Homo sapiens: one gene and its partners. The protein of the gene in region 1 purifies or fractionates together with the protein of each later gene. This does not show direct contact. Each region holds a gene or a part of one and is shown on either strand. Other genes may lie near its edges.

Evidence for each region.
Region 2: the proteins of MTNR1A (region 1) and GNAI2 purify together in Homo sapiens (tandem affinity purification; 3 studies listed by BioGRID and IntAct, with this or other methods). This does not show direct contact.
Region 3: the proteins of MTNR1A (region 1) and HNRNPA0 purify together in Homo sapiens (tandem affinity purification; 2 studies listed by BioGRID and IntAct, with this or other methods). This does not show direct contact.
Region 4: the proteins of MTNR1A (region 1) and CANX purify together in Homo sapiens (tandem affinity purification; 2 studies listed by BioGRID and IntAct, with this or other methods). This does not show direct contact.

What each region holds. Positions count from the first base shown.
Region 1 is NC_000004.12:186,552,563-186,560,368, forward strand, and holds the start of MTNR1A (melatonin receptor type 1A), read right to left. Parts: upstream 3,006-7,806; 5' UTR 2,804-3,005; coding exon 2,620-2,803; intron 1-2,619.
Region 2 is NC_000003.12:50,231,704-50,239,222, reverse strand, and holds the start of GNAI2 (guanine nucleotide-binding protein G(i) subunit alpha-2), read right to left. Parts: upstream 3,020-7,519; 5' UTR 2,888-3,019; coding exon 2,770-2,887; intron 1-2,769. UniProt on the Homo sapiens protein: Guanine nucleotide-binding proteins (G proteins) are involved as modulators or transducers in various transmembrane signaling systems.
Region 3 is NC_000005.10:137,751,364-137,759,114, forward strand, and holds the start of HNRNPA0 (heterogeneous nuclear ribonucleoprotein A0), read right to left. Parts: upstream 3,001-7,751; 5' UTR 2,704-3,000; coding exon 1,786-2,703; 3' UTR 1-1,785. UniProt on the Homo sapiens protein: mRNA-binding component of ribonucleosomes. Specifically binds AU-rich element (ARE)-containing mRNAs. Involved in post-transcriptional regulation of cytokines mRNAs.
Region 4 is NC_000005.10:179,722,948-179,729,966, forward strand, and holds part of CANX (calnexin isoform d precursor), read left to right. Parts: coding exon 1-72; intron 73-712; coding exon 713-832; intron 833-1,709; coding exon 1,710-1,836; intron 1,837-3,732; coding exon 3,733-3,812; intron 3,813-5,643; coding exon 5,644-5,697; 3' UTR 5,698-7,019. UniProt on the Homo sapiens protein: Calcium-binding protein that interacts with newly synthesized monoglucosylated glycoproteins in the endoplasmic reticulum. It may act in assisting protein assembly and/or in the retention within the ER of unassembled protein subunits.

The DNA of each region.
Region 1 (7,806 bases):
GGTGTACCCAGAAAACAAACAAGCCAACACAGTATTACGTGTTTTATCCTTTTCAAAGTATTCTCATATGCGCCACTTCACTACAGTCATTGCAACACTCTTATGAGGCTAAGCGGTTGGGTATTACCTGCAATTCAACAAATGTGGAAAATGAAGTTTGGTATTTAGCTTCACTGATTTCTGAAATCAGAAGGAGCACAGCAAGGATCTAATCCTAGCGTTCCATTGCGGGAATCGTCCCTTATGCTATCAAATTTACTCAGAAGATATGATATGGTAGCTTCACTTCTATTATCAAATTGTGGACAAGAGTAGAGCGAATATTCTGTTGGCACCACAGATACCAGTGGTTGTCTGCAGCCTGCGTCGGCTGTGGCTGTCCACTGTCCCCGCCATGCAGATTGTTAGCCATTTTTAATTTATTCCCTGGGAAGTCAAATGTCAACACAGTCCCTTGAGGAGAGGAAGGTGGCATAAATCACCACAATTATACCAAGCTTTCCAAAGGAAAGTGATGGTTCAAAGCCTAGATGCCTTCACATTGTCATTTCTTCCATTCTCTTCTTCCCAACATTTCATCCTTAAAGCCAACAAAATTAATTTAGCTGAAATGAGAGGTCTGAAGATCATCAAAACTTTTAATAAGCATACCAAAACTTATATTTGAATCAGCTATCCTTATCACTGTTTCAAATTACCATCCATTCCAGAAATCCTCAAATGGCTTGAACCGCACATATAAACAAAAAATCCCTATTAGAAAAATATGGAACTTCTAAAGCTGTGCGGATTAAAGGTCACTAAGGGTCTCCCATGCAGCTACAGGAATATCCTCTTAAGAGCACGTCTTAGCAAATAAAATACAAAGTGAGTGTAAGGAGTTCTTAAGTTCTTCTTCAGAAAACACAAGAAGTAAAATTGTTCAGGCGTGATCATTTTTTACTTTTTATTTTATTTTATTTTTTTGAGATGGAGTTTCACTCTTGTTGCCCAGGCTAGAGTGCAATGGCACAATCTCTGTTCACTGCAACTTCCGCCTCCCGGGTTCAAGCGATTCTCCTGCCTCAGGCTTCCAAGTAGTTGGGATTACAGCTGTGGGCCACCACATCCAGCTAATTTTTTGTATTTTTAGTAGAGACGGGGTTTCACCATGTTGGCCAGCTGGTCTCGAACTCCTGACCTCAGGCGATCCACCCACCTCGGCCTCCCAAAGTGCTGGGATTACAGGCTTGAGCCATCGCGCCCAGCCGTGAACACTTTTTAAAGGTTCTGCAGGATTCAAACTTCCCAAATGCTGCAGGTGTTGACAGCAAGGAAGCAGGGCGAGCTCTGGAGGCCAGCTCTGGGAATTCAACCGGGCTCACACCTACAGTCCCTGGGAACAATCTGCAGCCCCAGTTTCTCCTCTGTAAGGCGAGTTGACCACGGCGCCACAGCACAAGGCTGCACTAGGATTCAATTAACCCAGTGCTCACAACCTGTTTGGTCCAGAGAAAGTCGTTTTTATTGCTAGGAAGGAAAGAGCCTCTTCTCGAAGGCAGAATTCCTCCAGTTTATATCAATCACCTACGAAGTGAGCTTATTCAATTTACTGACTCAAACTCAATTCATATTACTAAGTGCTTAACTAACTAATTCTCAAACTACAAACCGTAAAAGCACTACTGGGGGCGGGTGGGGGAGGCAGGGCAGGGGTGAGCCTCCCCAAAAGGAGCTAAGCAAAATTAGAGCTTTTCTTAACCACCTGGTTAAAACGAAAATATTGATCTTGGCAGACATGTTAAGTGCACGTTTCGTTCCCCGCCCCTTCTCCCAAAAGTGCCTCCAAATAAAAAACTAGTTTCTTCAGAGAACCAAGCATCTAATCATCACTCAGAGGTCTGAACATCCAGCATCCTAAGAACAAAGTGTCCACAGGTTCCCACCAGAACAAACCAGTTCAATGCATTGCTCGGAGGAAAAAGCAAGTTAACTCAAGCACACAATTACCTGTAGTTGCATATTATACGTAAGTGTACTCTTTCCTGCTCACGCCTGGCTACCTGCCTACTCTAACACAACAACTTCCGTTTTTAAAGTGTCAACTTGTTTACTTGGAGGAGCCGCCGCCTGCCGGACACAGCACGTTTGGGAGCCTCTCTTTCCACTGTAGGCTCGTAACTGCAGACTACTCCCGAACAACAAGACCACGGCGGCTGCTCCATCATTTTGCCAGCTTCTATGTTTCCATATTTTAACAATGTTGGGAAAACTAAATCACATGTTAAGACCAAGCAATTGATCAGTTCGTTGCAGAGGCTGCTTGAGGAACTTTCTGCAGCCTGGACCTGAGGCTTCTCAATCTAATAAACCTCAGACAGGACAACCAGACGGGGGTGTCCCCATAGGAAAGAGAACCCGACTCTGGTGGAGTGTCCCACCTCTTAGGGGCTGTGACTCCGCGCCTTATGAAAAGGCACTTTCAACGGGCAGGCTGGAGAAGAGTCCTCTCTAACAGGAAAAATAACTCCAAGTCCGCAGTGTTTAGGAAAAAGAACCAAGTGCTTGGGGAAGGCTGGCTGCCCGCGGAGAGGCGCTGCGTCCGGAGCGCTGGCCCAGGGGAGGCGGCGCGGGCCCTACCTGCGTTCCTGAGCTTCTTGTTCCGATACACCGACAGGATGACCAGGAGGTTGCCCAGGATGTCCACCACGATGGTGAAGATGAGGACGCAGGCCAGGGCGGACGCCAGCCACGAGGGCCGCGCGCCGTCCCCGCGGAGCACGGGCTGGGAGGCGTTGGGCAGCGCGCTGCCGTTGCCCTGCATGGTCCCTGTGCGCGTCCCGGCCGCGGGGCCATCGCCCGCCTCGTCCGCCCGCCCGACCACTTGTTAAGGCTCCGCCCGGCGCTCCCCGCGCCCACGCCCCATCCCGCGCGCTCCTCCACGCCGCGCCCCCGGACGCCCACGCCGCGCCGGACGCCACGGCCAGGTGACACCTGGTGTCCGCCGCGAGCCCGCTTGGATTCCCCGCCCGCAGCTCGAACCCCGCACCACGGGCCGACAGCGCCCCGGTGCGGGAAGCCGGGCCCAGCCGCCGCGCCCTGGGGACGGTGTCCCAGAGGCCTCTCCTCGTGGGCGCACGGCGAGGCCGTTCATTGTGTTTCCTCTCTGGGATGGGACTTTTCACCCAGCAGGGCCAGGCTGCCTGGGATCAAATGCGAAATGGGATTGGGGCGAGTTCACCAGCTGTGTGCCCCACCGCCCTTATCTTCCTTATCTGCAAAATGGGAATAAGATACTATCTCACCTGTTAGCCTCATAATTAGTAAAATGTGAAAAAACCAAGGACTGTCTTCCGTTGTGTATTGCACCGCTTAAGATGGTGCTAGATGTTTCCGATAATGAAATGACATTTTCAAAGAAAAAAGTAAAACTCAATATTTGCAGATGATAAAAATGTATGTACTTCTGTAAGTACCAGTAAAAATGAGAAAGAAAGCACACTTAGGTGGATCGGATACATGGCAGCAATGTAAAAGTGCTAGGAAATGGCCTAACCAGTTGTGTGCAGTGAGGAAAAAACTTTATGAAAACCATGAAAGGAAATTTAAATAAACGGAGAGACAAACAGTGTTCCTAGCTTCGAAGCCTGAAATTTTCATTTTCCTCATATACTTTATGCCAGACCAAGAAAAATATCAAATAACCTAAAGTTTCTTTGAAAGAGTAAAAAGAAAGTGTAGGAAAAGGATTTGAATAAGATGAATAGGAGAGAAGTATGACCTACCAGTATCAAAATGTTCATTAAAAATTACAATTAAGTGGCGCCTGGGATTACAGGCACGGTGGCTCACGCCTGCAATCCCAGCACTTTGGGAGGCCGAGGTGGGCGGATTACCTGAGGTCAGGAGTTCAAGACCAGCCTAGCCAACATGGTGAAACCCCGTCTCTACTAAAAATACAAAAATTAGCCGGGCGTGGTGGCACAGGCCTATAATCCCAGCTATTCGGGAGGCTGAGGCAGGAGAATTGCTTGAGCCCGGGAGGCGGAGATTGCAGTGAGCCGAGATCGTGCCACTGCACTCCAGTCTGGCAGACAGAGCAAGACTCTGTCTCAAAAAAAAAAAAAAAAAAATTACAATAAGTATGCCAGGCACGGCTGCTCACACCTGTAACCCCAGCACTTTGGAAGGCTGAGGCAGGTGGATCACCTGAGGTCAGGAGTTTGAGGCTGGCCTGGCCAACATGGTGAAACCTCGTCTCTACTAAAAACACAAAAATTAGCCAAGTATTGTGGTGGGCGCCTGTAATCTCAGGAGCCTGAGGCAGGAGAATCGCTTGAACCCGGGAGGCAGAGATTGTAGTGAGCTGAGATCACGCCACTGCGCTCCAGCCTGGGCCAAAAAGAATGAGACTCCGTTTCAAAAAAAAAAAAAAAACTAAAACAGTATTGAGCTCATAAACAATTTGAAAAAGCATATAAAATAAAGATTTTATAAAGTGAACAGTTCAAATCAGTAGGGCTGGGATAGATCACGAAAACAAAAATGCATTTAAAGAAAATGTAGGTAAATATACATATCACTTGAGGTAGAGAAGCACTCTGTAAGCCTGGAAAAAAGACAGACAGGAAATAATCCTAACCATAGAAAAGGTAGCAGCTGCCATGGACAGCGTGTGTCACTTCCCATCTCTGGCATCGGTATCTTACAACCATTGTTTGCACAATGTGTTAACAATTCCAGAAGGTCTGGCACTGCTGCGACCATTTTATGGACGAGAAACCTCTGGTGCTGAGAGGTTAAGCAATGTACCAAAGTCACACAGCTGGTAACAAGTAGAGGCAGGATTGGAACTCAGGTCTCTCTGACTGCCAAGCAAGGAGCCTCATTACTAAGTGATAGTGTTTCTCGGTCGTGATAGATTTGACTACGGAAAAGTTAAAAGTCCTATATTCAAAAAATACCACACACAAGTGAAAGCTAGAGAAACTGGGGAAATGATTTGTGACATAGCTAAGAGACGAAGCATTAATGGTCTTCATTATTGTTATGGTTTCAGCATGTCCCCAGAATTTGTGTGTGGAAAATTTGGTCCCCAGGGGAAGGCGGGGCCTTCAAGAGGCGATCAGGTCAAGAGGGTTATACCACTCTGTCTGACTGGGTTAATTCTGCAGGCATGAGTCAGTTCTTGCTCTCCTGGGACTGGATTAGTTACAGTGAGAGTGGGTTTTAAAAAATTACCACTCCAGCCTGGGAGACAGAGAGAGACTCTGCTTCAGAAAAAAAAAAAAAAAATTATCCAGTCCCAGGTATTGCTGTATTCTGTAATAGTGATGGAAAACAGACTAAGACAATTATATAAAGAGCTAAGGAAAAAAAATAGAAATATATTTAAAGGTCATAATTAGACAAAAACTAAAAATGTATGTGTAACCTCTTTTAGCAAAAAAGTTAAAAAAAAGAGAAAGCTTCCATTCCAGCGATCACTTTAGAAAACATTATATTGGTAGTGCCAAGTGTGGTTTGAAACACGTGGAGAAAAAGCATTCCTGTGCACCAGATATGGACGTCTTCAAACTGCATACATGGTGCTAGTCGTTTTACTAATAGAAAACAATTGAACAGTGTCCACATGTGTCAGGACACACCGTTATTTCTCCCTGCATTGTTTGTCACAGGTAAAACTCCTATACTTGGGGTTTTGATACACAAATTTGTGAAATCAACAGATGAAATACAAAGGCATAGATGGCTAACTCTCCCCCAAAAGGGGTGGCATACATAATGCTGGGGTGCACATAACAACATTCATGATCTTTCTTCCCTGGGGAATGAGAAAGGTGAAGCTGGGAAACCACGAGCACTGAAAATGATGGTGAAATCCTGGAAAACAAAGACCCAGAGAGGGAATGCCCAGACTCTGACTGCCAGCATCCCTGAACCCAGCACGTGAGGAATAGACCCAAAGGAAGCAACTGGAGCAAAAGGCCTGAACTGAGGCTGGAGCTGCCACACAAGAAAACAGTTCCAGTTCCAGCCTAGCCAAGAACACTGCCTACTGAGACAAAGAAAACTCAACAGAGAAAAATAATAGCATCTAGAATACCCACAGTGTAAGATTCGTATGTCCATGGTACATTCAAAATTATTTAACGTATGAAAACATTGTCTGTCTATCTATCTATCTATCTATCTATCTATCTATCTATCTATCTATCTACCTATCTATCTATCATCTATCTAAACACATTCTTTAAGATACAATAAGATCAATCAAATCCAGTCCCTAAATGAGCAAAATGTTGTAACTAACAATCTCAGCAAAGAAATAGGAACTCCCATGAAAGAAATAAAAACAGTAAAAAAGAACGAAGGGGAAATTCTAGAACTGAAAAATACAATTTCTGAAATTAATTCTTTACTCAATGGACTTACTAGCCAAATGGACATGACAGAGTAAGTATACTTAAAGATAAACCAACAGAAATTGTCCAACACAGAGAAAAGATATATTTTAAAATGAACAAAGCTTACAATTCTTATAGATTATATTAATTAGAATACTAGCTGTAGAAATAAAATGGTGCAGAAAAAATATTAGAAGACATCATGATTGAAATTTTCCTGAATTTTAGGAAAGACGTAAATTTGTACATGCAAAATGAATACTAAGCAGAATAAACAAAAACAAGCATACTAAGGCACAGCATAGTCAAACTGCTAAAAGCCAAAGATAAAAAGCAATTAAAGTCAAGTTACATATTACGTACTGGTTAGCAATTAATCCAACTAACAGCTGATTTCTCATCAGAAACTGTGCTAATTTTCTATTACTGTCATAACAAATTACCTTAATTAAATTAATTTGGAGACTTAAAACAACATCCATGTATTATGTCACAGTTAAACAGACCAGAAGTCCAGGTACAAAGTGGCTCAGCTGAGCCCTCTGCTTAGGGTCTTATGAGGATAAAACCACAAAGAAGTAGAGCTGTTTCTTTCTGGAGGTTCTCAGGGTAAATCCACTTCTGAGCTCATTCAAGTTGCTGGCAGAATCCAGTTTCATATGGTTGTAAGGTTGAGGTCATTCTCAGCTTCTAGAGGTTGGCTGCATTCCTTGACTCATGGTCCCTTCTCTCATCTTTGAAGCCAACAATGGTGGGCAGAGTCCCACTCACACTTCAAATTTCTCTAACTTTATCTTCTGCTTTATCTCCTCTGCTGTTAGCTGGAGAAAGTTCTCTATTTTAAGGGCATGTGGATTTAGACTGGGCCCAACTAGACAACCCAGGCTAATTTTTCTATCTGAAAGTCCATAGCCTTAATTATATCTGAAAGTCCCTTTTGCCATTGGTCTTACCCCTCATTGTGTTGCTATAACAGAAGACCACAGACTGGGTAATTTACAAAGAAAAGGAATGTATTTCTTACAGCTCTGGAGGCTGGGCAATCCAAGATCAAGGGGCTGCACCTTGTGAAAGCCTTCTCGTTGTGTAATCCCATGGTGGATGAAATACCCAAGACCGAGTAATTTATAAGGAAAAGAGGTTGAATTGGCTCACGGTTTCACAGGCTGTACAGGAGGCATGGCTGCTTCTGCTCGACTTCTAGGTAAGTCTTGGGAGACTTACAATCAGGGTGGAAAGCGAAAGGAAGCAGGAATATCTTACATGGCCAGAGCAAGAGGAAGAGAGAGAGGAGGGAGGTGCTACACACTTATAAACAACCAGATCTTGTGACAACTCTATCACAATAACAAAACCAAAGGGAGAAATCCACCTCCATGATCCAATGACCTCCCTCCAAGACCACCTCCAACACTGGGGA
Region 2 (7,519 bases), on another chromosome or scaffold:
TGTGAAGCTGTCCACACAGGCCCATCCCAAATCAGAGACTCTCCCCCCTCACATACACTCTGGCTTCCTTTCCCTTAAGAGCCCAGACCAGGGTCCCAGATTCCACCTGGGCCTAGCTGATCAGTCACGTTGAGCTGGGTAGGAGTGGGGAGCATCCCTAGAATAGGACTGGTATCTGCTCCCCCTACAAAGTTGCCAGGAAATACTCTCTTGCCTGTGTGTACCACATCAGCCTCTGCCCTGGTGACAAGGACTGTGCCTGCCTGCTGGCAGGGCTACCCAAGATGGGAGGGAGGCGGTGTGCGGGCGGGGCAGCAGGCGTGGTTCTGGCTGGGAGGGAAGGCTGGCAGTTGCCCAACCTGAGTCCCGTTGCCTGGACAAAGTCTCCCGCTACATGGGACAGGCGCCCAGAACTCTGAACTTACCACAGCTGGGCTCCCATCACCACCTTGCACCTGGATGGGAAAGGCATGGCTCAAGCCAGGATCCCTCCCCAGGCAGCCATGGCAGACTGGGTCATCAATATCAAGCAGAGCTTGGTCAGAGCCCTTTGCAGCACACTGCAGGGTCTTTACTCCCAACCTACATCCCCAACAAGAACCACCAGGAGGCTCTTGTTCTCCCTCCCCATCCTGACCTGGGGCACTCCTTTGGCCAAAACCCAGGAAGCCCATTTCACAGAGTAAGCAAAGGCCAGAAGGCCAGGACCCCAGGGTGAACTTCCCAGGCTAGAAAGTGCTAAGCCAGACCCTGCACCCCTGGCTGCTGCCAGCCCAGTGTGGGAGGAGTTACCAGGTCTCACTTGCCTTAGCCCAAAAGGTGAGCTGGGCTCCAAGGAGCAGGCCTGGTGGGATGGGGGACCCTTCTGGTGTCGGGACACAAAACTAGCCAGAAGCCCTGCGTTCCCCCAGCTCTATGGTCCAGTCTTGCATTTCCTCGGCCACCACAGTAACTGCAATCGCCTGGGGAGAGGCTGTCTAGAGACTCCTGGCTGGGCACTGGGAGGCAGCGGTACCGGAAGTGCCCTCCCCAGGCCCGTCGGGCAGCAGCAGCAGCAGCGACGGGCATTCCGCCGCGTCGACACCCACTCACTGCCGCTGCCGCACTCACAGCAGAGACAGGAAGAGGCAAGCGCCCAACGCAAAGCAGCCCAGGAGGCTGGGCCGCCGCCCCTTCCCGCCCCTTCTCTTCCTCCCTGAGGCAGCAGCGAAGCGGATGCCATTTTGAAACCTCCAAGGCTGTGCCCCGGAGGCCGGGTCCGCAGGGACAGTCAACAGATGGCCCATAATGGACATACATGCTGTTCCTCGGCCACAGGTCCAGCACGAAAAGCCCTGCTTTTCACAGCCTGGGAGCCCTATGACAGTTCTGAAGTCGAGGGGCCACACCCCCCCATGCACTTCTCAGCCTACAACGGTGCTGCGCTGTTGCAAGGGCCTCCCTCCCCCCAACTCTAAAACCCCCAAATCAAAATTAGACTGCCACTGGGCACCACACCTACTTCCAGTGGGAAGCTGGATGGGGACAGCCAGTAGGCCCACCGTCTTTGCAAAAGGCCAGCTGGGATGCTCAGAGGCACCCTGGCCCACCCCCAGCTGGCCCCTCAACTCCTCATTCAGCTAGTCCACCATCCCCCTTCACAGGGTCCCAAGATCCAACAAGCCCCCCAACTCTCAGAGGCTACATCCCAGGCCTTGCAGCCCAGAAGGGGTGTGGGCAGCCCAGCACCTACTAGCAGATCTCCTGGGCTCACCCGCAGGGGCAGCAATATGTCGGCTGTCTCACCACTTCCACTTCCCCCCACTCCTCTAGCAGCCACCATCTTTTCTGGCCTTGGAGGCGGCCACAACCCTAACTCCTCCACTCTCTCTCCTACTTCCCAGACTGGCCTTCGAAACTGGAAAACATAGAGCCTCCTTGGGAAGCCTGAGGCCTGGCCCCCTCCCCCAGCGTGACCAGTGGAGCCTCAATCCAGCCCCGTGGGGGTTCTGCATAAGGCAGCCTAGGCCCTCTCCAACCCAGGGCTCCCGCCTCCTAGCCCAGCCCACTTGGTGCAGGAAGGGTGGAGGGATCTGGGGAAGGCCAGAGTGTAAGAGGACTTAGGGGAGGATCAGCAGAGGGTTTCGGGAGTGATGCCTGCAGAGAAGGATCTGGAGGGCAGGAAGCAGGGAGCAGGGCTCGCTGAAGGGGTTCCAGCTGGAGATGGGGCTCAAGAGCAGTTTCCCACTCGAGAGGTTCCTTGGGTCAGAGTGCACAGGTGGAGGATACAGATTCCAGACTAGGGATGGGGCACAGAAGGAGAAGGAGGGAGTGGGTGGGGGGCCTGGCAGGGGCCCCGCGGGATGCTCATGCCCAATAGGAATAAAAGGCGCAGGTGAGGAAAACAAGCGGAGCCTGAGGGTTGGGGAACAAGTGGCGGGCATCCTGGGGGTTTGGGCAAAGTGTAGGGAAGGATGGCGGGGCTCTGAAGTTCTGTGAAGCTAGTTAGCAAGGGGGGATGGCCAAGCAGGGCACTGGACCGCGGGTGTTGGGGCACTGTTGACTGGATTTGGAGGTCTGGGGTCTGGGATGAGACAGGGGTCTGGTCTAGAGTCTGGGCAGGATCAAAGGTCTAGTCCAATCTAGAGTTTTCAACCCTGGTCCTGGCCCAGGTGTGGGGTCCCAGACAGCCCGGGTCTGGGAGTTTGAAGCCCTAGTCTGGGAGGTCAAAGTCCTTGTCTGGGGATTCGAGCTGGGAATCAAGGATCCCAGTGCGGGACGCGGCCTCACCCAACAGCAGCAACTTCACCTCCCGCGCCGCCTTCTCTCCGTCCTCCCGCAGGTTCTTGTCGATCATCTTAGAGCGCTCGGCCGCCGCCTTGTCCTCGGCGCTCACGGTGCAGCCCATCCCGCCGTCCGCCGGCCCGGCCGCCGCCCGGCCCCCACACGGCCCACGGCCCGGCTCGGCCCCGCCCGACCCACTCCGCTCCCACCACCAGCCCTCTGCGGGAAGCACTCGGGTCGGCAGTTCCGAGCGACTGCGGGAGGCGCCTTCCCTACCGCCGCGCACCGACGGCGGGGCGGGCCGGGGGTGGGGCCTGGGCGAACCAAGCCTGTGACTGGGCCGGGGCGGGCTTGCAGGCGGGGCCAGAGGAGATTAGAGGCTGTTGATTGGCTCGAGGGCGGAGCGAAGGGGGAAGTTAGGCGCAGCCCAGGCTCGGGCCTGGGCTGCAGGCGGGGCCACGCGGAGAAAAGGCAATAGGGGTGGTTCCAAACCCCGGGACCCGGCACTGGGCGGGCTGCAGGCGGGACCGGGCTGTGATTGGGTGCGGAGCGCCGGGAGCTCTGTTGCTGGACAGCCGGGAGGGCGGATCTGTTAACCCGAGGGTGGGGATCCGGTGCCCTCGAGGGCAGAGCAGGAACCAGCCCTCTGAGCTTCTGCGAGTTGGGCGAGTTAGGTGGAGGAGGCGTGTCTTTGTCATTTGTTAAAGTTAATGAGTCCAGTAAACTTGTTTTGGGATCTACGAACTCGGGAGCCTTTCTGGACTGCGGTTTTCTCAGTCTTAAGGCGGGTTTACCGCCTTCTCCCTCTGGGTTGCAGCTAGTCGAAAAAGGAAAAAAAAAGGCCGGGCGCAGTGGCTCACGCCAGTAATCCCAGCACTTTAGGAGGCCGAGGCGGGCAGATCACTTGAGGTCAGGAGTTCTAGACCAGCCTGGCCAACATGGTGAAACCCCATCTCTACTAAAAATACAAAAATTACCCGGGCGTGGTCGTGGGCGCCTGTAATCCCACCTGCTCAGGAGGCTGAGGCGGGAGAACTGCTTCAACCCGGGTGGCGGAGGTTGCAGTGAGCCGAGATCGCGCCATTCATTGCACTCCAGCTTGGGCGACAGAGCAAGACTCCGTCTCAAAAAAAAAAAAAAAAATTGGTTTCCATCTTTACACCTTTGCCTAGGCTGTCTCCTTTAGCTGGGTGGCTTCTCATATCCATCCTTCCCCAATCTACCGGGAGGCATTCTTCGGCAGGCAGCCATCCTGGACTCCAATCTGGGACCAGGCAATCAGGACCCAAGGGAGAAAGGGAGAGAGGATGAGAGGGTGGAGAGGGAGGAAGAGAGGAGGGCGGGCAGGCAGGGTGAGGGGGTTGGGAGGGAAGAAAGAGGAAGAAGTTGCCACTGGACTTCTAGAAACAAAAGTGGCCATGATCTTATGACCTGTCTCTTCCATGGCCTGTCCACGTCTGGAGGTGGCCATGATCCCACATCCCACCCTCCTGTGGCCTGTCCCCACTGGGCAATGGCTGCAACCCTATGGCCAGGCAAAGGTGGGGTGGAAGCAGCAGTGTTTCTAGCTGAACATTTCAAGTCTTTCTGATCCTGTGCTCCAGGAGCAGCCCAGAGCCCCACCCTCGATTGGACATTTGAAGGGTCTGCCAAAAATTAACCACGAAGGCATTTTGTGTGACCCCAGTGCCATGAGGCTAGGAGGCCCCAGCCCAAAGGGAAGGCCCCTGAAGCAAGACAGGGTGCTTGCCACCAACAGCCCGGTGTTTAGCATAAACCCCTTCCTTAGAACCTTGGTACACATTTTGGCTGGGCATGGTTGCTCATGCCTATAATCCCAGCAACTCTGGGAGGCTGAAGCAGGCAGATCTCTTGAGGTCAGGAGTTCGAGACCAGCCTGACCAACATGGAGAAACCCTGTCTCTACTAAAATACAAAAAATTAGCGGGGTGTGGTGGTGGGCACATGTAATCCCAGCTACTTGGGAGACTGAGGCAGGAGAATCACTTGAACCCAGGAGGCGGAGGTTGCAGTGAGCTGAGATCATGCCATTGCACTCTAGCCTGGGCAAGAGTGAAACTCCATTTCAAAAAAAAAAAAAAAGACCGGGCACGGTGGCTCACGCCTGTAATCCCAGTACTGGGAGGCCGAGGCGGCAGATCACGAGGTCAGGAGATGGAGACCATCCTGGCTAACACGGTGTATTTTGTACTAAAAATACAAAAAATTAGCCGGCGTGGTGGCGGGCGCCTGTAGTACCAGCTACTCAGGAGGCTGAGGCAGGAGAATGGTGTGAACCCAGGAGGCGGAGCTTGCAGTGAGCTGAGATTCTGTCTCTGCACTCCACCCTGGGTGACAGAGCAAGACTCCGTCTCAAAAAAAAAAAAAAAAAAAAAATCAGCTGGGCGTGGTGGCACGTGCCTGTAATCCTGGTTACTCAGGAGGCTGAAACAGGAGAATCACTTGAACCTGGGAACTGGAGATTGCAGTGAGCTGAGATCACACCACTGCACTCTACCCTGGGCAACAGAGCAGGACTCCGTCTCAAAAAAAAAAAAAAAAAAAAAGAACCTTGTTACACATTTTGTTCCAGCTCCCAATCCCCAGGCTGGCTGTTCTCCCTGGAGTGTCTGCATATCCCTATCTGAATGTCTCTCTTGTTGAGGGGTCATTGGCCTGGAAGTCCTCCAATGACTCCCTCAGGCCCCCCTCCTGTCCTGAGACATAGGATATGATGTCCCATGTCCACCACTGCTCTGAAGCTCAAGCAGGCCCTGCCATGGGCATGCAACATGTTGAGGACACATAATGTCCACCAGGGCCACAGATATGCTGTAGACACCCACACATAGGTCAGTCTCCAACATGCCTCAGATCCACAGAACACACTCTACAAAAATGGGTACACATGGCCAAGAATACAATCTGTCCACGCACAGACTACAAACTGGCTTCCAAGGTGGGACCCTCCCCTTCCCTCTACCTGTCACCCTGCCCCAGGCTTGAGAGCTGATCCTCGCTCCTCTGGCCTCTCTAGCCTGCTCCTAGCAACAGCCAACAGCTCTCACAGTTGCCAGGCAACAGGGAGAACCTGTCAGCCCCTTGGAGGCCCAGCTCTCAGTAGGTGGGCGCAACACAGACCCCAATCTATGGAGGCAGGGCAAGATGGGGCTACTGGAAGGCATGGCCTTCCCCAGCCCCAGGCCAGGTCCTGTGGTTATGGCACCCTTCCCGCCAGTCAGCTGCTCCTTTCCAGTCCTATGCTCTTCCCAGGGAGTCCAGCAACCCTTGCTTCCACCCTGCTAGCTGCTCCTTCTCCATCTCCATGGGGTCCCCAGGGCTATGGCCAGGCCTCTGCTTGCCACTCCACTCATACACCTCCCACTCTGGGGGCTCAGAACCCCACAAGGTCCTCTCCAGCCTGACTTCTTTGATTGCCAGCCCCATGTCCACCACTGCTCTGAAGCCTCCCCGAGACACCCAGGCACCTCAAATCCACACTGTCCAGAACTGGGTACATCCCATCCCACTGGCCCCTGTTCCCAGGCTCTCCACCACTTCATGATCCCCCCACCAGCCACAGCAATGACCCCCTCCCCTACCCCTATATGCCATCAGCCTCTTCCCTACCTCAATTTCCCCTCCAATCTGTATTTGTTCTCTGTCCCCACTATCTCCCAGCCTAGGATTCTAACGTCTTCCTTGGCTCTCCTGTTTCCCTACAATTTATCCTCCACATGGCAGCCAAGGGCATCCTACTGAAAGAAATCACATCACCCCCTTGCTCGGAAACTTTCTGTGGTTCCCCAATGCCCTGAGAATAGATGAAGCCCCCACACACACTGGTTTGGACTCTGCAGCAGTTGGAGGCTGTAGGCTGGCAGTTGGAAGCAAAGACTCTGAGGAGCAGTTTGCAAACTTGCCAGCTACTTGTTACTTTGGACAAGTACCAGAAACTCCCTGTACCTCGGTTTTCTTATCAGTAAAATGGGCCTAACGGTTATACATACCCAAAGCACAGGCAGAGGTCAGGACTCCAGGAGGAAACATGTAAAACATGCAGAATGTGCATGGCACATAGAAAGCCCTCAATAAGGGTGAGGTGTTATAGTAGTGATTTCTTTTTTTTTGAGACTGAGTCTGACTCTATCACCCAAGCTGGAGCGCAGTGGCATGATCTTGGCTCACTGCAACCTCCGCCTCCTGGGTTCAAGTGATTCTTGTGCCTCAGCTCCCCAAGTAGCTGGGATTACAGGCGCCTGCCACCACACCCGGCTAATTTTTGTATTTTTAGTAGAGATGGGGTTTTGCCATGTTGGCCAGGCTGGTCTCAAACTCCTGACCTCAGATGATCTGCCTGCCTCGGCCTCCCAAAGTGCTGGATTGCAGGTGTGAGCCACCGTGCACGGCCCTTTTTTTTTTTTTAATAGAGATGAAGTCTCACCATGTTGTCCAGGCTGGTCTCAAACTCCTGGGCTCAGGCAATCCTCCCGTCTTGGCCTCCCAAAGTGCTGGGATTACAGGCATGAACCACTGTGCCTGGCCCAATAGTAGCGATTTCTGTAAGGCTTTATGATTGTCCCCACTCAAGGGTCCACCTCATGTCCCTCCACTTGCAACACACTGGCACTCCAACCATCTGGCTTGCCTTGCTCTCTCCATCCCTCGATCTTCCCTCCCATCCCCCTACCCTGTTAAATTAATCCCTCCTCCCCACCTTTCATTCCCTGGCTGTGAGCTGGGCTTCTCTGAGTCC
Region 3 (7,751 bases), on another chromosome or scaffold:
GACAAGAAGTTAAAAAATGGTTCAATATTAAAATATTATTTTATTTTAAAGCCCAATCTTTCAGAAAGCTTCTTAGTATAGCTTTGAGCCTTCAACGTCAACATGTAAGTCAAATATTTAAGTTAAATATTAACATCAAGTTAAGCATACTAGATTAAAAGGTACTCTGAACCCACCCACCAGGTTATACATACTCTCACTCAATCATGTAAAGAATTGAATTCTTTATTTGTGATATCCATAAACGTTGCTATTCTCTATTTCTATCCAGAAAGGCAATTTTCACCTATTATCACTTTTGTTCTTCTCTTATAAACAACAACTTGAATGCTATTGCAGGAAAGGGCTACAAATATACATTTGTTAACCAAGCAGAATACACAGATATTTTGCTTTACAACTTGCACCTAAAATACCAGTATACGTAGCTGGTTCATTAGTTGTCATAGCAATTTAGGGCTATTGCCCAAGCTATGCATAGCAGTTTACATTTTCAAACCTCATATAGAAAGGGCTATTGTGATATGAACTGGCAACTACATTCCTGTGAAGCCCATCTCAGTTACAAGCAAATGTGTTAACTTCCAATTCTGCAAAGAATTTTGATGGCAAAACTTCCAAATCTGATGCAATTGTCTTAAGCAAGTTTTTAAACAAATTGTTTCGCAGCTACTCTGCCATTCTGCCAGTAGATGGTGCTACAAAGATCGGGAAAGGGATTTCCATGAGGCCAACAGTTCGGATATAGGAAAAAAAAAAAAAAAACGTTTAAACCTGCTCTGAAAGTACAAAAACGCATTTGAGGGTAAAATATAACCCTTATTTTTAACCATTCATTACAGACAAACCAGTAAGAGGGATGAAACTAGGCCATCTGAAAAATTTTAAACAGTTTATATGAATGACATGCTTAACACAAACTATATAGAACTACACAGTACACAGTTTGAAGTAAATTGTCATAGAAATGACCAACCATGTCAAGATGATAAACAATTCGCTTAGTACAAGAGATGGATGCACAGAAACTTAAGAGTTTAAAAAGCCACATCCACCACTTCAAAAGTTTTGCCTGTAAGGGATATAATTCAACACGCAACTAGCAGGGCAACAGGAGAGGGGAAAAAAACCACAGGACCTCTTAAGTTTCTCTAAGTACACATCAAGAATAAAGAATTAACACGTAAAGTCTTAAACAAATATCCCTTAAAAAACGGTACGGAATGGATCCTAGAAAAAAAATGTTAGACATGTACGGTCAAACACAATGATTTATTAAAAATAAAACGTAAAAATGATTTTTGTACATATGCTTCCAAATTTCAGGCATGGGATCCAAGTAGATTTCATAGAAAACGCTGTAGCCAGGTTATCAAGTCCTTACAACAAAGTAAACTACCCCCCACCCCAACCCCCACCCAGGTTTTGCTACAGAATCAGCAAGTTCACTCCCTCCCTCCCCCCAAAAAACACAAATTAAAACAAGACATTTTGCTAGTATAAAAACGACCAAGGTCCAAGTAATAATAAAAAAATAGAGTCCATCAATGACTGTAACACAAAAATGTGTATGTGGGGCCGAGTCCATCTTCAGAGGGAGAGACAAGAGAGGTGGCAGGCAAATAGAGGAACACCCCCAAGGGTAAGCAGCCTTAGAAGTGGCTCCCCCAAGGGCAAAACAGGGAAGGCGGTGTGTGTGAGGGGGTGGGGCTTAGGAGTTGACCCCACTTGGGCTGTTGGAAAGAGCTACCCCTATAGCCACTCCCAGGCATTTTAAATTTTCTTTTAGAAGGAGCTGCCTCCATAGCCACCCCCACCGCCATAGCCGCCTCTGTAAGGTCCACTATTACTGCGACCGCCCCAGCTACTGCCTCCACCGCCGCCGCCGCCGCCGCTCTTCATGGGCCCATAGGAGGACTGATGCTGGCTGTAGCTGCCGAAGCCGCCGAAGCCGTTACCGTAGTCGCTCCCACCGTAGGACGAACCGCCGCCGCCGCCTCCGTAGGCATTGTAGCCGCCGCCTCCGCCGCCGCCGTAACCACCGTAGCTGTTGTAACCGCCGCCGCCGCCCTTGGAAAGGCCGTTCTGGTCTCGACCACCGCCGCGCCCCCGGCCGCCTCGGCCGCCCCGGGAGGATCGGGAGCCGCCTCCACCCCCACCGGAGTAGATATCCTCCTTGGGGACTGCTTTCTTCACCTCCACGCGATGGCCCTGAATCGGATGGAACTTGACCACCGCGGCCTTGTCTGCCGCGTCGTGATTCTGGAAATACACGAAGCCGAATCCACGCTTCTTGCCGGACTGCTTGTCGGCAATAATCTCGGCCTTTTCCACGGTGCCAAACTGCGAGAAGTGCTCGATCAGGTCGCCCTCAGCCACGTCTCCTTTAAGGCCTCCGACAAAGAGCTTCTTAACCTTGGCGTGGGCACCGGGCCGCGCCGAATCCTCCCGGGACACCGCCCGCTTCAGCTCCACAGTGTTGCCGTCCACGGCATGGGGCGAGGCGGCCATGGCGGCGTCCGCCTCCTCCACATTGGAGTAGGTCACGAAGCCAAAGCAACGGGAGCGCTTGGTCTGGGGATTCACCACCACCACGCAGTCCGTCAGAGTCCCAAAGGCCTCAAAGTGGCCGCGCAGGCCCGACTCACTCGTCTGCACATTGAGGCCGCCGATGAACAGCTTACACAACTGAGAATTCTCCATCTCCAAGGCCCGGGCCTTGCCCCCGCCCTGCGAGCTCCGAGGTTTCGCCGTCGCCGCCGTTATCGTTGGTTAAGGCCTCTACACAGCTTGGGCCCAGCCGTTGCTGGAGCCACCCCCGCCGCTCACCGACGGGGAAGGGAAAAAGGGAAGGGGAGGGAAGGAAGGAAGAGAGGAAGGGGGAGGGAAGGGGAGCGGTGCCGGCTAAAGGGCGAGCCGAGGAGACTGGAAGACAACCAAGGCCACCGCTACCGCCGCCGCCGCCACCTCCGCTCCCCTATCTGGGCACCACACAAAGAGGCCGCTGAACGCGCGCGCACCCTCCCCGAGGCGTGCGTCACCGCCGACGTACGGCAGCCTAGGGCTACCAGCCAATCCCCGCCTCGCTCCCCTTAATCCCGCCTACCGCGCCGCAGCGCCGCTCTAGATCACGGACTCCCCGCCCTCCGCGGTCTATTCAAGCCCGCGGCCTGTGCCGCTCCCGCTTCCGCTTCTGCCAGCCCACTTTCATTCCCGAGCGCCCCACTGTCCCTTGACATGGGTCCCTCCCTGCCCTCCGCGCACCACCGCGATTCATTTCCTCCTAGCACCGCGGCTGTTCCCAGTGTTTCTCCCCCTCCCCTTTACTCATCCCCTCGCCCAACTCCGCAGTGGCGTTCGCGCCAGCCCCTTGAGAGACATCTGAGTTCAGCCAATCACCGTGATCCCCTCGCACCCACTTCCGTTTTCGGCAGCTGTTGGACGGGCGCGCTCCCCGGTGCGCGCTTGCCCCGGCGCCCCCGGCGTGCAGAGCCGGCCTACCACCCCCGCGCCTTCTCCCGCCCAGGGCTTTGCCGGGGAGAGAGCAGGGGGCGCGCTGGGGGCCATTCCCAACGGATGCGGTCTGGGGCGCCACGCGCGGGCTTTTTGAAAACTTGACTGTTGGGGTTGGGGGCCCGGATCTACCCGCCGCCTCTCCGCTTGTCCGCTACACCTGGCGTCCCCGCCCCACCTCCCGCCCGCACAAAGATGGAGGGCAGAGGCCTGGTCCACGAAGGCGGTTATTAACCGTTTACAGTGGGCCCGACGTGCGGTTAAACTAAAACTTTGCCACGTGGCCCTGCGCAAAAGCGAGCCCGAGGCGGCGGTGTGAAAGACAACAGGGAACCAAAAGAACTTCAGACATTAGGAACCAGACGAGGCGCGACATCCCTGCCTCCCTGCCACCCTCCCGCCCTCCTTGAAGCCCTCCCACGATGCCCTCTCAGAGGAGGCCCTTTCAGGTCCCCTTGGCACACTCCAGCAGACATTTTCATTTAACCTCAGTGAATGGTTTTTTATGTGTAATTTACATCATCTATGTGTTGCTTTCTTTGAACTAGAATGTTAGCTTTTTTGTTGTTGTTGAGATGGAGTTTCACTCTTGTTGCCCAGGCTGTAGTGCACTGGCGCAATCTCGGCTCAGCAACCTCCGCCTCCTGGGTTCAAGCTGTTCTCCTGCCTCAGCCTCCTGAGTAGCTGAGATTACAGGCGCCCACCACCACACCCGGCTAATTTTTGTATTTTAGCAGAGATGGGGTTTCACCATGTTGGTCAGACTGGTCTCAAACTCCTGACCTTAGGTGATCCATCTGCCTCGGCCTCCCAAAGTGCTGGGTTACAGGCGTGAGCCACCGCGCCTGGCCTAGAATGTTAACTTTGCTTTTTTTTTTTTTTTTTTGAGACGGAGTCTTGCCTAAGCTGGAATGCAATGGCACGATCTTGGTTCACTGCAACCTCCACCTCCCGGGTTCAAGCGATTCTCCTGCCTCAGCCTCCCAAGTAGCTGGGACTACAGGCGGGCACCACCACACCTGGCTAATGTTTGTATTTTTAGTGGAGACGGGATTTCACCATGTTGGTCAGGATGGTCTCAAACTCGTGACCTAGTGATCTGCCCGCCTCGGCCTCCCAAAAGTAGAATGTTAGCTTTTTAAAGATGTTGGGTTAGACGAATGTTTTACAGAGAGAGAGATCATATACCCCTAAGTTACTGCTTTTAGTGCCCTCACTCAGATGGGAATGGAAGAAAATTACAATGGCTTCCATTTATTGAGCCTTTGTGTGCCAAGCAAGATAAATGGGGTGGGACATAGTTAATATGAGGCATTACGTGACCAAAAGCCTCCAAAACCATATGGTAAACGCTGAAGAAGTTAAGAGGAATTCCTCACTGTATCCTCAAGTATTCAGGAAAGATTTAGGAAAGAATTGGAAGTTGCACTGAACCTCAGAGCCAAAGACTAGTTAGTATCCTAAGCAAATTAAGGCTGGAACAGAAAACCAAATACCACAAGTTCTCACTTATAAGTGGGAGCTACACATTGAGTACACATGGACACAAAAGAAGGGAACATTAGACATCAGGTCTTTTTTAAGGATGGAGGGTGGGAGGAGGGTGAGGACTAAAAAGCTACCTATCAGGTATTATGCTGATGACTTGGGTGACAAAATTATCTATACACCAAACCCCCAAGACTAACAATTTACCCACATAACAAACCTCCACGCGTATCCCTTGAACCTAAAATAAAAGTTGGAAAGGAAAAAAAAAAAGATTTCTGTAGGGAGTTTATTTGAGCAAAATCCAGAGGGAACATAAGCTTCAAGAGACAGGGAGTGGGCCAGTTAGTTTGAGAGAAGCAGGCAGTTTTAGATAGAAAATAGTGAGAGGTAAGATAGGTTGAGGGTCTTTGGTACTATGAAATGATACTATGGAATGTGCTGAATCTTAGGTTAAGTAGTTTGGATACTGTAACAAAGGTAAATAGATGGGCTAAGGTTTGAGGGTAAACTAGTCTGATCTATCACTTACCCTGTAACCATTCAGTTATGTGACTTTGGCTAAGTTACTTAACCTTTTAAAAAAATGTAATCAGTTTTATTATCTTAAAATGGGAATAATAAAACATCTTTCTGTTGTAGTGAAAATTAAATAAGATTCTACATGTAAACATGTATACATGCCTGGTACACAGTAAGTGCTCAGTTTATCCAATTATATGAATCCTATGCCTGGTGCTGGCAATATGGCTGTAAACAACAGACAAAAACCTCTGCCCTCATGATGCTTACATTCTAGTGGGAAGAAGCAGACAATAAACAAATAAGAGTGGTATATGGCATGTTAGATAGTGATAAATGACATTAAAAAAATGAAAGAGGACAGTAGAAAGCTATTAACCTTGTTATTACAAAAAAAATTCAAATGTCAGGATTTGCCTATTGATAATAAAGAAAGGGGAAAATGGGCTGGGCACAGTGGCTCGTGCCTGTAATCCCTGCACTGTGGGGGGGCTGAGGCAGGCGGATCACTTGAGGTCAGGAGCTCAAGACCAGCATGGCTAACAAATTGAAACCCCGTGTGTGGTGGCGCATGCCTGTAGTCCCAGCTACTTGGGAGGCTGAAGCAGGAGAATTGCTTGAACCCAGAAGGCAGATGCTGCTGTTGTTAGCTGAGATGGCACCACTGTTTCAGAGTCATCCAAATCTTAAAACAGTAAAAGATGAACTCCTGAAGGAATAAAGACCATAACTTATGAAAACTGTTACTTTAGGAATTTACAATTTTGGTAGATAGTTTTTGCCTACATTGTTTTTAAATAATAGTTTACCAGCAGTGCCCAACTTTTCTGGCACAAGAGACCTATTTTGTGAAAAACAATTTTTCCACAGACCAGGATGTAGTTTCAGGATGATTCAAGTGCATTACATTTAATGTGCACTTTATTTCTATTATTATTGCATCATAATATTCAATGAAATATAATAATTATACAACTCACCGTAACGTAGAATCAGTGGAAGGCTTGAGCTTGTTTTCCCGCAACTAGCCGGTTCCCATCTGGGGGTGATGGGAGACAGTGACACCCGAAGTGTGTTGCTTATGTCCAGTTTACTCCATAATCTAGTTTTGGTTGCTGTCACTGCAGAAAACCCTGCTTCACAAATATAGGATGCTGGAAATGGAAGCAGGCTTTTCAGTGCTTTTGTGGCAATCTCAGGATATTCCATCCAGAATGTATGGAGATTTGAAGTTGTCTCAAACATACAAGGCTGCCGTCACTTGCAATCTCAAGCAGTTGATCCTCTTCTAGTATCGACAAAGTCAATTCTTCTGGCTTATTCACAAATGGGTGGTGGATCCATTCCTTCCCAGCTCAGGGATTTTTTTGTGGTTGGCAAGTAAAGCTCAAACTCTTTTGAAAGCTGAGCTAGGTGATCATGCAGCAGCTGGGAGAAAGAAGGCGTTGGCTCAGTCACTTTCAAAATCTCTGCTAATGTTTGAAACATGTCAGAAATCCCAATGTTCACTCATCGCCCCCATAACTCCAGTTTGGTTTTCAATGCAGCCCCTTTATCTGCTGATTTGAACACAGTTGTCATTCTCCCCTGAAGTGACAGATTGAATTCACTGAGCAGGTTGAATGTGTCACACAAGTAAACAAGTTTTGCCACCCATTCTATGTCACTGAAATGTGCTGCTAGTGGTGACTGTTTTTGTAAAAGAAATCTCTGGAGTGGCTCTCATAACTCAAAAATTCTGGCCAGTTATCTACCTTTAGAAAGCCATCTCATTTCTTATACACATCTCACAGAGTTGCGCAAACAGACATTGAGTTAAGGGCATGCACTTTAATGTCATTGATAATTTTAATCACATCCTGTAAAACCTTAAGTTCGGGTGACAATTTTCGGCTACCCGGCATTTCTCTGTAGATGACACAGTGCATAGACTCACATTCAGAAGTGACCTCTTTGACCTGAGTAGTGAAACCAGAAAGCCATCCAGTCATATCAGCCACTCTGTCTGTGCATATACTGACACAAAATGACCAATTCCGTTTTTCTGATATGTAATCAAAGTCTTGAATAGTTCTGCACCTGTGGTGTTGGTTGGCAACAAAAGTGCACATAACATATTCCCCTGCACATCCTCCTGAAAAAGATATGGCACAAAAACAAGCATTGTTGTCTTGTCAACATCAGTAGACTCATTAACCTGGATTGCATACCATGGTGACTCATTAATC
Region 4 (7,019 bases), on another chromosome or scaffold:
GATCGAAGAATAGTTGATGATTGGGCCAATGATGGATGGGGCCTGAAGAAAGCTGCTGATGGGGCTGCTGAGGTTCGTGTTTGCTGCTTGTGCATTTGTGTCTGTTATTGTAAGGAGCTGTTATTTTGTGAAAGTCTGTGTTAAGGTTTTTTTTCTTCATTTGGCAATATTGGCATAAAAAGTATAACCATATGCCTGCAAAAGACACAATATTGGGTTTTGGGGCATGATTTCATTAGTCTAATGTAGTGGCTTTAGAGTCTGTTTGTGTTCAGGGTTTTTTTTTTATTATTTGTCTGGGTATATATTTCGAAATTTGTCATTTAGGCTATATTTTAATACACTCTTATATGTTGAATCTCGGTTTACACTACATACAGAATTTTCAAACAACTGGTCATGTGGCCGATTTAAGAATTGGAGAGCCAGGGATACTGAGATAAGAAATTCACTGGATCCTGAGGTTAAGGGAGCCTTTTGCAGGTGATGTAGAAGCCAGCTTTTGCACCTATGAGAGTGAAATCATCTTGATTATAAGGAGAGCAAGAGGATGGAGGCTTTCTCTAATTTCTTTTTTACATTTTATGAGCATTTTCTCTGAAAAAGAAGGTCCTGCGTAGTGCCATGCCATAACTGAACTGCAGAAAAACAGCACGGCCTATGTTTGGTGTCAAAAGCTGGAACTTTCAATCAGCCCTGTCTTGTTTTTCAGCCAGGCGTTGTGGGGCAGATGATCGAGGCAGCTGAAGAGCGCCCGTGGCTGTGGGTAGTCTATATTCTAACTGTAGCCCTTCCTGTGTTCCTGGTTATCCTCTTCTGCTGTTCTGGAAAGGTAGGAAGTTTTTTTTTTTAGAATCAATTTTAGAGACATCACTCTAGTGATTATTAAAAATAACTAAGATATGTTGCCTGAGGTTTTCTTTGTAGTGGCTCAGTAATGACCAAGCCATGTTTGGTGTTGACTTCAGAAACCTTACTTACTGTTCCTCAGTGGCCGTTTATTGTGCCCAGATGGGAGCAGGATTTATAGCCCCTTGGTTGCTATTATTATTTATCCTAATCTGTTACTCTCCATAGTGTTCGGCAGCAACTTTCTAAAAAAAAACAATAAACTTAGATACCAAACTAGCCACTTGGGCAATAATCAGCTTTGCCTGCTGGCATAGCTATTTCTATTCTTTGTAATTCAGTCTTTGATTCCTCATTATCCATTCTGCCTTCACCTTCCCCACTCTCAAAACAGTATGTTGGGGTACCACAGCCTTATTGTTAGTTTTTCTTGTTTAGCCTTTTTTTTTTTGCATGCTATCATAAAAAAAGAAAGTCTTATTTTGGACTCTACTTCTGCTAAATGAGGATTATGCTTCATCTGGCATTCATAGCACTTTGTAACTGGATCCCAAGTTCCTTTTCCAGCCTCAGCCTCTGCCACTATTCTGTGTATCGGTGCCTCAGTCACCTTGACTTTTTTGACCTTTATTTTCCTGCCTGGCCCTTTTGTTTTTATTGTTCTACCTTGAAACACACAAGCACATGTGCATACACACACGTACATACACGCTCTTCAGGGTAGGAATTACATCCTATTCGTTTCTGTATATCTATCCCTGTATACAGCCTGGAACAGAACTTTGCCTGTAGGCATTCAGGAATTATATAACATAATACATGAACATGTAAACAAAATTGTACTTTGGGGAACATTTCAGAAACAGACCAGTGGTATGGAGTATAAGAAAACTGATGCACCTCAACCGGATGTGAAGGAAGAGGAAGAAGAGAAGGAAGAGGAAAAGGACAAGGGAGATGAGGAGGAGGAAGGAGAAGAGAAACTTGGTAAGAAACAGAGTCCAGAAAATCTGCTTTAAGCCAAGACCCTACGATGTTGTTAAACCTTTACAGTCAAGTTAAGGATTGTTTTTAGCCAGGCGTGGTGGCTCAAGCCTGTAATCCTAGCACTTTGGGAGGTTGAAGCAGGAAAATCACTTGAGCCCAGGAGTTTAAGGCTGTAGTCAGCCAGGATAGTGCCACTGCACTCCAGCTGAGCAACAGAGTGAGACCCTGTCTCTCTCTCTCTCTCTTTTTTATTTTTTAAGACAAGGTCCCACTCTGTCACTCAGGTTGGAGTACAGTGGCACAGTCACAGTTCACTGCAGCCTTGACCTTATAGGTTCAAGTGATCCTCCTACCTCAGCACCCCTCCAAGTAGCTGGGACCACAGGCATGCGCTACCATGCTCAGCTGTTTGTTTGTTTGTTTGTTTATTGATTTATTTATTTGATATGGTCTGGCCCTGTTGCCCAGGCTGGAGTGCAGTGGTGTGATCTCGGTTCACTGCAGCCTTTGCCTCCCAGATTCAAGCGATTCTCCCACCTGGGCCTCCCAAAGTGTTGGGATTACAGGCGTGAGCCACCAGACCCAGCGAGATCCTGTCTCTTAAAAAAAAATTGTTGGCCAGGTGCGGTGGCTCACGCCTGTAATTCCAGCACTTTGGGGGGCCGAAGCAGGCAGATCACGAGGTCAGGAGGTCGAGACCATCCTGGCTAACATGGTGAAACCCCATCTCTACTAAAAATACAAAAATTAGCCGGGCATGGTGGCAGGTGCCTGTAGTCCCAGCTACTCAGGAGGCTGAGGCAGGAGAATGGCGTGAACCTGGGAAGGCAGAGCTTACAGTGAGCCGAGATTGGGCCACTGCACTCCAGCCTGGGTGACAGAGCAAGACTCTGTCTCAAAAAAAAAAAAAAAAAAAAAATTGTTGGCCAGGCATGGTGGCTCACGCCTGTAATCCCAGCACTTTGGGAGGCCGAGGTGGGTGGATCACGAGGTCAAGAGATCAAGACCATCCTGGCCAACACAGTGAAGCCCCGTCTCTACTTAAAATAAAAAAGTTAGCCAGGCATGGTGGCGGGCGCCTGTAGTCCCACCTATTCGGGAGGCTGAAGCAGGAGAATCACTTGAACCCGGAAGGCAGAGGTTGCAGTGAGCCGAGATTGCGCCACTGCACTCCAGCCTGGCGACAGAGCGAGACTGAGTCTCAAAAAAAAAAAAAAATTGTTGGCCGAGCAAGGTGGCTCACGCCTATAATCCCAGCACTTTGGGAGGCCAAGGTGGGTGGATCACCTGAGGTCAGGAGTTCGAGATCAGCCTCGCCAACATGGTGAAACCCCGTTTCACTAAAAATACAAAAATTAGCCAGGCGTGGTGGTGGGCACCTGTAATCCCGGCTACTCCGGAGGCTGAGGTAGGAGATCCACTTGAACCTGGAGGCAGAGGTTGCAGTGAGCCGAGATCATGCCATTGCACTCCAACCTGGGTGACAAGCAAAGTCGATCTCAAAAAAAATAGTGGCCGGGCGCGATGGCTCACGCCTGTAATCCCAGCACTTTGGGAGGCCACCGAGGAGATCATGAGGTCAGGAGATCGAGACCATCCTGGCTAACACGGTGAAACCCCGTCTCTACTAAAAATAAAAAAAGTTAGCCGGGCATGGTGGCAGGCGCCTGTAGTCCCAGCTATTCAGAACACTGAGGCAGGAGAATGGCGTGAACCCGGGAGGCGGAGTTTGCAGTGAGCCGAGATCGCGCCACTGCACTCCAGCCTGGGCGACAGAGCAAGACTCTGTCTCCAAAAAAAAAAAAAAAAATTGTAGATCTAGAGATGTGTTCTAATGCTAATATATAATCACCAAAAATAATAAGGTTTTGCTCAGTTGTTTAACTTCTGTCTTAGAAGAGAAACAGAAAAGTGATGCTGAAGAAGATGGTGGCACTGTCAGTCAAGAGGAGGAAGACAGAAAACCTAAAGCAGAGGTAAAGGAAAGGGGTCACACATTTTGTTTTACCAAGCTGAAGGTACATTTATGTAAAGGGAATATTTTAATAGGGTAGTTTACAGTGGCTTATGGCAGTAAAAATTCTGTTAAAGCCAATTTTGTTGAAGTGGGATTCTTTGTGATACAGGTCAGTGTTTTGTTTGATAATTTTAAGCTACATATTAATCTCAGAAGTATCTTTTTAGCTGAAAATCATTTTCTGAAATAAGCAGAAGGTTATAGGGGGAAAATAAAATGCTTGCTAAGAAGGAAACTTCGGGTCATTAACAGTCTATTTGCCTCTCCTCACTGTGCCCTGAAAAGTATTTCTTATACAAATCACTGTGTTCTAAACTTTTTGTCCCCGTTGTCCATAGATGGGTTCATTCATTCATTTAACTGACATTTGTTGAGTGCCCATTTTGTGCCAGGCATTGTCAGTGAGTAAGACAGACAAAGATACTCTGCCTTTAGGGAGCTTAAATTCTACTTGGGGGAAACAGGCAATGAGCAGTAAACATTTTAAGGAAGTAAACAACACAGCGTATTAGGAAGTAAGAAACGATGAATAATTAAAACAGGAAAAGATACTAAAAGTGCTAGAGGTAGGCGGGTCACCATGTTAAAACCTTACTCGAAAGATGACATCGAACCAAACACTTGAAAGAGGTAGAGAACTTTTCCATGGGGATGTAAGTGGGAAGAGCATTCCAGGCACAGAGAACAGCCAGTATTGAGGCCTAAAGTGGTTGTCTACAAGGCCAGTATGGTGAGTGGACAGAGAGAGTGGAGAAAAGAAGGGTGGAGAAGGCTCCAGGTTAGACAGGCTGTTGTGTGGACTTGGCTTTCCCTCCTAGTGAAGCGGGCAGCCATCACAGGCTACTGGACACAGGTGTCACAGGATGATGACTGTGTCTGCTGTGTTTCCTATATACCAGGGAGAATCAGGGCGACCAGTTAGGAGGTCCCTGTAATCATCTAGGAAAGATACGGTGGCCCCACAAAGGGTGACAGGAGAGGAACAGAGGGTATGAGAACTAGTTGGAGATCTGGATCTTGGTTTTGTGGTAGATTGGATATATAGAGTATGAGAGAAAGGGAACAGTCACTGTCTGTATGTACCATTGCTTACTAAAGTCCTTTACCCAGCACCTCTGTGTCTAAATCTGGTCTCTCCCGGAAAGCTCTCCTCAGGTTTTACTTTCAGCTACAACTCTGCCTTCCTATTAATAAAGATCATTGCTATCTGTATCTTTTGTATATTTTCCATGGATATGTTCTGTCTTAACTAGAATGCAATTCTTAAAAGTAGAGACCATGTTTCCCCCAAACTCCCTCACACGTTAAAAAGTTGCTGGTGCATTTAAAAAAAGGGAATATTTTCATAGGGTAATTTACAATCTTAGCAACTTGTGATAGAGTACAGAGCAGCAGCCTTGGAGTCAGTCTACTTGGATAGCCTTCCATCTTCATGAATCCTTGGTTTCTTATCCTCAGAATGGGGCTAGTGTGCCATAGGCCAGTAGATTGTTTGGGATTAAGCAAGATTAAGAAATCACAGTGTCTGATCCTTTTTTAAGAAAATGTTTATGGGTTAGATTGAGAAAAGTGTATGTTTATAGAAAACAATAAAGACTAAACTGAATTAGAGTAGGCATAATTCCACCACCTCTGAGACAACCATTCTTCTTGGTGCATTTTCTTCTCATCATTTTCCTCATTTTTTTCCTCAAATAAGTTACCCTCAGTCTGGCTGATCTTGAAAATATGGTGAACTTTTATTATTTTTTAAATGTGCTAATTATAATGAATTTCTTTTCAATCAATAGGAGGATGAAATTTTGAACAGATCACCAAGAAACAGAAAGCCACGAAGAGAGTGAAACAATCTTAAGAGCTTGATCTGTGATTTCTTCTCCCTCCTCCCCTGCAAGAGTGGTCCTAGGAGAGGACCTGGCACACCTTAGGTTGACATTCAGAAAACTTCAAGACATCACCATCAGCAGGCTCCAGTTGAACACTAGTCTGTGTAACTTTAAACATCTAGCAGTAAATACTTGCAGTTGTGATATAAAGGACCCTGTTTCTGTAGAAAAGAAAACATTTAACATAATGGTTGTGAAATGTAACATGAAGCAAACTAACTTTTTTTTTTTTAACATCTTTGTTTTTAAAATAGAATGATAGAACTTTGCCAGTCTTTAAGATCTTGGCTTAATTTAATGTATTAATCTGTTTGTGCAAACATAATACCACCATTTAAAAATGTTAGGGAGATGAGTTGCAGTTTTTATAATAGATTTTTTTTAAAGTTTGGTATTGTAAAACATTCACACCTCTGTCCCTCAAAATTGATAATTACGTTTAAAGTGCAGTCATTTGTGGTTAGAATCTTGTTTTGTTTGCTTCCATTATTGAGTTCCTCCTAAGGAAATTGAGGAGAGGGACTGAATAGAAGCCCAAATTCATATAAAAGTTGCGTTTAAGTTGTATTAAAAATAGATATATAAGAAAAAATTCTTTCACTTGATGTTTGTTAGACCAGAAAGTGTGTGTGTTCTGTAGCTCAGTTCCCAGACAGCTTTTTAGGTAGTGGAGGAGGTGGCTTCATGTGGCACTTGGGCATTTATATTCCACTTGGGAGGGTCAGGCTGTGGCCTTCTGGAGCAGGTGGCTTGTTAAGGAATGCTAGCAGGGCATGGCACGTGAGCTCCGGAATAGATGTCTTCATCACTTCTTCCACTGTGTGTTGACACTGTTTTCCTTACCTATTTCCTCAGATCCCCAGCTTTCTCCTCTGCTATGCATTTTCTTCACAGTGCAGCTTGCAGTCCGTTGCTGAAAATGATTATAAGCCCTGCATAATGTTAAGCTTTATTGTGATTACGTGTATGTTTCTTCTTTCTTTTAAGCAGACCCATACCTTTCCAGGGTCAAAGTACAGAATAGAATACATTGATACAAAGTACAGAAAAATACTTTGATTTTTATCCATTTCTTTTACTCTGTGTAAAGACTTGAGAAGTCTAATTCACAGGCAAACCAATACAGAATTGACTGCAGTTGAACAGACTAGAAGTATTTGTGGGAGGAGTGACATGAAGCATGAGTTATCTGATTTTTTTTGTAGCTGCTATATATTTTAAGCCTTCATTTGCAATTCATGTAACAGTTGTGTCATAAATTACACAATAAAGCAGTCCTG